Regions from separate parts of the Homo sapiens genome. Here region 1 is linked to region 2. The links come from fine-mapping of genetic effects on gene expression. A gene starts in region 2. The other region holds a variant in brackets. All regions are shown on one strand. Distances are from middle to middle. Region 1 overlaps NOC3L (NOC3 like DNA replication regulator). Region 2 holds the start of NOC3L (NOC3 like DNA replication regulator).

What was found. PIP is the estimated chance that this variant, and not a neighbour inherited with it, causes the effect. A credible set is the group of variants that fine-mapping cannot tell apart.
Region 1: its variant is the best candidate, but not a certain one, in a credible set for the expression of NOC3L in follicular helper T cells (Schmiedel 2018, PIP 0.60).

Annotation. Positions count from the first base shown.
Region 1 is chr10:94,340,581-94,344,975 of GRCh38, forward strand. NOC3L (NOC3 like DNA replication regulator) reads right to left here. Exons shown (of 21, transcript NM_022451.11): 12 at 4,273-4,353; 13 at 3,835-3,935; 14 at 1,093-1,165. Among named protein-coding and RNA genes, the nearest start is that of NOC3L, 20 kb to the right of the region's middle. The variant TACACAC/T (reference allele first, on the strand shown) is at 1,973.
Region 2 is chr10:94,360,447-94,364,841 of GRCh38, forward strand. It overlaps NOC3L (NOC3 like DNA replication regulator), which reads right to left and starts at 2,493. Exons shown (of 21, transcript NM_022451.11): 1 at 2,384-2,493; 2 at 1,219-1,426. The coding sequence starts at 2,392. RefSeq lists an enhancer at 2,167-2,426 and a silencer at 2,567-2,696.

The DNA.
Region 1 (4,395 bases), 20 kb before region 2:
GCCAGGAGCAAAGACTCAAGCCTGTAATCCCAGCAATTTGGGAGGCTGAGGCAGGCAGATCATTTGAGCCCAGGAGTTCAAGACCAGCTTGGGCAACATGGCAAAAACCCATCTCTCAGGGCCGGGCGCGGTGGCTCACGCCTGCAATCCCAGCACTTCAGGAGGCCGAGGCGGGCAGATCACGAGGTCAGGAGATCAAGACCATCCTGGCTAACACGGTGAAACCCTGTCTCTACTAAAAATACAAAAAATTAACCGGGCATGGTGGTGGGCGCCTGTAGTCCCAGCTACTCGGGAGGCTGAGGCAGGAGAATGGTGTGAACCCGGGAGGCGGAGCTTGCAGTGAGCCGAGATCACGCCACTGCACTCCAGCCTGGGTGACAGAGCAAGACTCCCTCTCAAAAAAAAAAAAAAAAAAAATTTCTACAAAAAAATAGAAAAATTAGCCAGGTATGGTGCCCCACATCTGTAGTCCCAGCTACTCAAAAGGCTAAAGTGGGAGGATCACCTGAGCCCTGGAAGGTCAAGGCTGCAGTGAGCTGTGATTGCACCACTGCACTCCGGCCTGGGCAACTGAGTGAGACCCTATCTCAAAAAAGAAAAAAAAGACCTATAAAGGTTATCTTTAAGATAACCTAGTATGAGGCAGATTTACAGGGTGACTATAGTTTACAATAATCTATTATCTATTTCAAAATAGCTAGGAGGGAAGAATTTGAATGGTTGTCACATAAAGACACATATTTAAGGTGACTGATATCCCAAGTAAAATATTTACAAACTATATTATATGAATATATTTAATTATCACATATACCCTGAAACCATGTACATCTATTATGCATCAATTTAAAAAAAAAAAAAAGAAAACAGGTCAGACAACCCTCCTGCTTAAAACTCTCCAATGGTTGAAAACGTTCTACATCTTGACTGTGGTGGTAATCATATGATCATAGGCCTTTGTCAAAATTCATAAACTGTACATCTAAAAGGGGTTTTACTGTATACAAAATATATCTCAATAAACCTGAAAAATTTTTAAAATAGTAATTACCATTTATATCTTTTAAAAAATAATTTATTATTACTTACACCAGACTCAATGAGAGTATGAAGAACTACTAACAGATCATCAAAAAATTCCACATTTATAAGGTGAGCAAACCTGGAATCAAACAAAACAGTTAATCAGTGAACTAAAAGCAGAAATAAAGCTGGTAGAAATTAAGCTTGACTTTAAAACTGTATTTTTAATATTCTTTATTTCGAAATGTTAGCTATGAAAGACATGGCAATTATTGATACTTTTCATTAATTCAGATTGGCCTCTTCAACAATTCATACACCATTGAACACTAAACTCAGTAGAAATATATAAGGCACTGAACAAACCAAAAATATTTCAAAAATCCTTCTGCACTGAGAAAGAAATTACTAGAAGCAAACAACTTCCTGAGGAAAGTTTAGGAGGTATCCGGCAGGATCGGCTTCTAAGAAAACAGGTGGTGGGAAGAGAGACAAGGAAAGATTCTGCTACTTACAAGAATATGGACCTTATGACAGCTTTAAGGATAAAATGGAAAGAATACTGGACCCCAGTATCTAGTTCAGGCTCTGCTCTTAATTACCTGCGTGATCCTAGGTAACTCACTTCACTGTCCTGGGCCTCTATTTGTAGAAATAACTGAGACCACCCAATAGGGTTAAAGAAGAATCATATGAGCTGCTAAATTTGAGAGTTACTCCATATACTATAGTAGACACTGAAGTAGGTTAAAGTCAGGACATCTCTTCAATATTAGCAAGAAGTCTTTGATCTATGTAAATCTTAGAAGAATAAAAGACCTTATGAGTGACATATTCCATGCATATCGGTACAACTTTTTGGAGAAGCAATCTGACAATTATTTATCAAAATTTAAAATGAGCATACCCTTTGATCTGGCACTACATGCACACACATGCATGAAGA[TACACAC/T]ACACACACACACACACACACACACACGTGCGCAAGTATTCCCAGTGCAAATAGGCGACTGACCAAATAAAGTACAATATATCTATAAAATGGAGCACTATAAATTTTTTAAAAATTAAGTGATATATATGTGATAAGGGAGAGGTACCAAAAGTAACTGTTTACAAAACCAAAAAAAAAAAAAAAAGCAAGTTACAGGACACTAAACATAGCATGATTCCATTTGCATGAAAGATGGCAGGCAGGCCCGGTGCGATGGCTCATGCCTGTAATCCCAGCACTTTGGGAGGCCGAGGCGGATGGATCACCTAAGGTCAGGAGTTCGAGACCAGCCTGGCCAACATGAGGAAACCCCATCTTTACTAAAAATACAGAAATTAGCCAGGTGTGATGGCACATGCCTGTAGTCTCAGCTACTCGAGAGGCTGAGGCAGGTGACTGCTTGAACCTGGGATGTGGAGGTTGTAGTCAGCTCAGATTACGTCACTGCAACCCAGCCTGAGCAACAGAGCAAGACAGTGTCTCCAAAAAAAAAAAAAAAGGTGGCAGATGGCACGCAGACAGACTACATACATATATAGGAGGGGGAGCTTGCAATTTTAAATTGTATATTCTTTTGCATTATTTAAATTTTTTAAATGACCATATATTATTTTTTAAACTTTTTTAAATAAAGGAATTAGTTATTAAAAAACAAATAGCTGGGTCGAGCATGGTGGCTCACGCCTGTAATCCTAGCACTTTGTGAGGCCAAGGCTGGAGGATGACTCACTCAGGAGTTCAAGATCAGCCTGGGCAATATGGTGAGAGCTTGTCTCTATTTAAAAACAAAAATAAAAACAGCAAGTCCTACACAATGTAGGAATAATCCCTTCTCTGACCAGCCTCTCTGAAGATTTTTAACCACAAGGACCGTATCACCATATAAGGAAATGCATACCATTGCCAAATAGCTCCAGTTATTAGAAAGTAATTTCTTATGATAAACAGAACTTGCCTTTTCTATATCTTCTAGCCATCAGTCCTATTTCCAACTCTATTCCTAAAGTTGTACTGCCCAACAATGGTAGCCACTAGCCACATGTGGCTGTTAGGCACTTAAAATGTAGCTAGTCCAAATTAAGACACAAGCGTAAAATATAAGTGTTCGAAAATATGTTATGAAAAAACACCAAACAACTCATTAATGTTTAATATTGTGTTAAAATACTTCAGATAAATCAAATCCAGTAAAATATATAAAAATTAATTTCACCTGTTTCTTTTTATCTTTTTAATGTGGCTAATAGAAAATTTTAAATTATATATGTAAGTTCACATTATATTTTTACCGAATAGCAATGTTCTATAGGATACCACCTCAAAAAATTGTGGAACGCTATCATGACAACCACAACCCTTACTCTAGCTCACATCCTGACAAGGCCATTAGTGTTGAGTGAATACACCAAAAGATCTATCTTAGCAGAAACACATTACACAGAACTAGAGAAATGATGTACAGCCGGGTTAAAATAGACTTAAGAGTCATCTGCATGATCCACTCAAACTATGACGATGGGCAATTGACTACACAGTGCAGAAAGAGTCAAGAACTGAGAGATTTAACCTTAGGAACACCTAGAATTTAGTAGGCAGAAAGAAGGAGTTGGTAAAGGAGATTTTAAAAATAAAAGGTTTGAGATGAGAAAATCAAAAAAGCCCACTGTTATGAATAGCTTCAAGTAAAGGCTGGTGACAATCAGAAAAGGAATGAGAACTGAGGATAATGGGCCATCATTAGGGAACTCTCGAAAATTCTTTGGTCTTTCCTATTTAGAAGGAATCTAAAAGATTTCAACCTACACAGCCCTTACTTGGCAAGACCTTCTAGAACTGCTGGCAGGAGAGGTGACCTCTGGGCCTTCTTCAATATTCTGAAGTAGGTTACAAACACAATATTCAGAGTCTCTGTGTGCTGGCAGAGGAGACAGACAAAATGACTTTAGGATAACCTGGTATGCTTTCTCCTGAGTGAGCATAAGTATCACTTCAACAGGTTAACTTTTTTCCCTACCCATCCCTCCCCACAATGCAATCTTTGAAATTTTTAACAAAACAGAATGAAGATATACACCCTGTGACTGCATAAAACTAGCACTGATCACATCACAGTTTCCCGCACATCACAAAAGTCACACATCTAAGCCTCATGAAAGAAACCAAAATTACACAGCTACAAGCTGAAACAATAAATTTCTAGTTTAAACAACTTAACGCATTTTAAAAGCATAACAGAATATGAAACTGCCTACCAGTTTAAGTTTTTTCTCAGTACTCTCTGAAGCTTCTGCCTCTCGAAGCTCTCGCTCTAGTTTCTCTTCTGCTTTCTTCCACTGAAAATAGATTGAAAAACAAAAATCTAAGAGCATATACCA
Region 2 (4,395 bases):
AAACAAGCTAGGCACAGAAAGACAAATTTCACATGTTCTCACTTATTTGTGGTAGCTAAAAATTAAAACAACTGAACTCATGAAGAGAGTAGAATGATGGTTACCACTGGCTGGGAAAGGCAGTTGGAGGAGATAGGAGTAGGGATGGTTAATGGGTACAAAAATACACTTAGAAAAAGATCTAGTATTTGATAGATAGGATGACTATAGTCAACAATAATTTATTTTATGTTTTAAAATAACTAAAAAAGTATAACTGGATTGTTCGTAACACAAAGATAAATGCTTGAGGTGATGGATACCACATTTACTCTGATGTGATTATTATGCATTGTATGCCTGTATCAAAGTACCTCATGTATCCCATAAATATATACACCTACTATGTACCCACAAAATTAGAAAAAAAAAAAACTTTAGCTGGGTGCTGTGGCTCACCCTTGCAATTCCAGCACTTTTGGAGGCTGAAGCAGGAGGACTGCCTGAGCCCAGGAGGTCAAGGCTGTAGTGGGCTATTTTTGCACACTGCACTCCAGCCTGGGTGACAGAACAAGACCCTGTCTATTTAAAATAATAATAATAATTTTTAAAAAATGGACCTGAGAAGACTGAATAGTTGTCTAATAATCTGATATAGTCAAATAAGAATACCCTAAAAGTACCAGCAAAGTTGTAGAACTAGCCTGACTCAAAATAGTCATATTCCTTACAAGTTTTGAGTACTTAATAATTTTTAGATAGTTTTACAAAATAACCATGACAATTACAACTCAATTTCACCCCAAGTTTCCACATGAAAAGAAAGTCAGAAGTTTAGAAGTGTACCTTGGCAATACTGTGAAGAATGAACCAGAGACAAGCAATGTTCTTACCTTACCTAACTGCTGGTGAATGGCAAAGTGGCAGCACTGGCACACTGCCCAATATTTATGTAACGGAGTACTTTCAGTTTGTTTTCCCAAGTAGTGCATCTTCAGATCTGCCTTCCAGACAAACTAAAAGCAGAAGCTTGAATGAATACTGTATTGAAATGTTTTCTCATACTGACTGTGATAAAGCATATATGCTTTATAGCAGTCCTATAGGACTACTATCCTTACCCACTCTAGGAAGATCTGAGAACAAGAAAAGCGATTACTAGAAAGCAAAGTTATTTCCATGAAGAACACTTCAGAATAAATCAATGGAAACCAGAGCACATGATGTTTTCACAATTACCTGGTCGCTTTTCCTTTGGGTTCTCCAATGGAATGGGTTTCTTAGACACAGCATCTTTCACAGCTTGCCTTAGTTTCCTCTGTTCTTTTCGGTACTTCTTGAGAGTGCTTTGTTGTTTAAACTGCTTATTTTTTAGCTTGTTTTCAAGTTTGACTTTACTAGTTTTTATTAACTTGCGAAAGCTTGGGATCTGTTTTTTATTTCTTCTCTAGAAAATAACAGAAAGAATACTGCATACCCAGAAACTTATTTTTTAAATCAGGTTAAAGAGAACTGATTACAAATTTCATTAGACCAATTCCACAATTTCAATGTCCCACAGCCACAGACTTGCATATAAAAGCTAAAACCAAACGATGGCTTTAATCCTACAGAAGAGCGCTACAGCATCAGTTATTCAATCCCAATTCACAGCAATTCAAAGGGTTCTACGATCCCCAAACAGGTTAAGAACCACTGATCTAGTAGTGGTAAGTGGCTATTCAAGGCTAGTTTAACACACCTGTAGTTTAACACATTCAAAGCAAAATGCTGGCTGTCTTTAATAAAACTTACATTTATCTACGATTTTATTACTTACAAAGTGCTCCAACAAATCACCTCTAACAGCCTAGTTGAGTACTGACTGCTGTTATCCTCACATTACTGATGAAGCTGCCAAAAGACCCATAAACTAAGGAGGGCAAAACTGAATTCGGATCTTTGGATTCCACTTCTCTTGCTGGTGACTCATTCAGAAATCCCAAAGTTAGTCCTGAACCCCAGGACTACCTCTTATTTTCTGGGAGAACCAGGACAAATCACTTGCTTTTCTATCTCTTTACCCTTCATGGGTACCGTGACTCACATTATAAACTCGCTGAGGGTAGGACCCTGCTTCTCATTTGTGAAAAACGAGTTCGAAAGACGGTCTTGAAAAATTCCTTCAAAGTATGAAATCCCACGCATGCAAAACTCCGTGCCTGTCTCTTCGTGATACTCTGAAGTGGTGCGCGCACACAGTGGGTAACCAAGGATGAGCTCGGTGTAAGGAATGGAAAGCCCCCAGTCTAAACCACCGCCCCCTAGACACGGGTGAAAACCTGCCTAAAAGCTAACTCAGGCAGTGACTCTATCACCCGAAGGGGCCCTAGGCCGCGGCGACCGGGCTTTTGAGGACACTTACCGCCTTCATCCTTAGGCCTTAAATGAATGCCGGCCAGACAAGTTCACCAGAAGCAGGGTTACTACAGAAATCCCGGGGAATGACACACGTGCCGAAGTCCCTACACTACCAGAGCCGGAAACGGCCTTCAGTCCCTCCCAATCCTCCGCCGCCGGAAGTGAGGGCGGGACTTCCGTAGACAGGTTCGGGCTCGCGCCCTCTCGCGGTGACTGTCTCGCGGCCCTGGACCGGTTGCCCCCCGGCGTGCGCGCGCGGACTGGCACGAGGGAAGCCCCGAGGGCGTCGGTGCCAAAGGCGGGAAGCCGGGCGGGAGGGGCGCATTTTGCAAGGTTATCTGAGTATGATTCTTTGACTCTCGCCCTATTTATTTCTTTTAAAACCTTGGGGAAATCGGGCTCCTCCTCTCAGAATGAGAGGACTTGGTTTTTTCGGTCACCTCATTGCATTTTGTGCCTCTCCTCACGTTGCTTATCTCATGCTGTTATAGATACTGATTTTCGTAGTCTTTTTCCTCCATACAGTCCTGAGGGCAGAAAGAAGCTTATTTTTTGTGTGTAATGCCTGCCCCTCGACGGACATTCTGGCCGTGTTTGTAGCATGGCGAATGATTTCTCATCAGCCTTGGTCACTTAAAAGTCTGTGATTCTTAGTGTTTTATTTTGCATTTTTTTTTTGCTTTAATTTTTAACCATTAGCTGATAAAGAACTGTATCCATGGCTGGGTGCGGTGGTTCACGCTTGTAATCCCAGCACTTAGGGAGGCAGAGGCGGGTGGATCACCTGAGTTCCAGGAGTTCGAGACCAGCCTGGCCAACATGGTGAAACCCTGTCTCTACTAAAAATACAAAAATCAGCCAGACATGGTGGCGTGCGCCTGTAATCCTAGCTACTCGGGAGGCTGAGGCAGGAGAATCGCTTGAACCCAGGAGGCAGAGGTTGCAGTGAGTCGAGATCACACCACTGCACTCCAGCCTGGGTGACAGAGCAAGACTGTCTAAAAAATAAAAATAAAAATAAAAAACTGTATCTGCATTTCAGTATCTTACAACTTTGGGTAAATTCTGTCTGCTTAGTAATTTCACCAAAGTCGTTTTTTGTTTTTGTTTTTTGAGACGGAGTCTTGCTCTGGCGCCCAGGCTGGAGTGCAGTGGCGCAATCTGGGCTCATTGCAAGCTCTGCCTTCTGGGTTCACGCCATTCTCCTGCCTCAGCCTCCCGAGTAACTGGAACTACAGGCGCCCGCCACCACGCCCAGCTAATTTTTTTTGTATTTTTAGTAGAGACGGGGTTTCACCGTGTTAGCCAGGATGGTCTCGATCTCCTGACCTCGTGATTCGCCCACCTTGGCCTCCCAAAGTGCTGGGATAACAGGCATGAGCCACCGCGCCCCGCCTAAAGTCGTTCATTTTTACAGGAAGTTTTATGGATTGCAAGAATAAGAGTATCAAAGTGCTTGTCTCTCAAAGACTTTTTTTTCTCAATAAATTTAAGCATTCCACTTCAAGTTTTTTGTGGGTTTTTTTGAGTCTATGATTTTTGAGCATGGCCCTGACACAGAGTCTGGCCTCGCAGTCCTGAGCAGGTGGGAAAACCCAGTAGTGCGGCTCAAAGGGTTCTGAGCCCCTTGAATAGTGTTGCTCTTAGAGAGACTGAGGGAAAAAAGTACCAATTTCCTGATCCCACCACAAAGACCAAGAGGTCCATCTGGCACTCTTCTTTCAACCTCCCTTCCAACTTCTTCCTTGCTCTGTCTCCTTCCACACAGTGTCAGAAACAGCAGAGCCTGTCCCGCTGGAGTATTACTTCATCAAACAAGTGGAAAACATCAGCCTGTGCTCTTCCCAAGTGCCTGAATTCCCTCCCAAGCATATCAACATATCTACAGTCACTCCCATCCTTTTAGCCTTCCTTCCAGTCTCTCCAAGGATGAGGCATCCCCATTCCAGTTCAAAACCAACTCCTCCCAGCTTCATCAGATTCTTGTATCATTAATTATCCCTTCTTTCCTGTGTT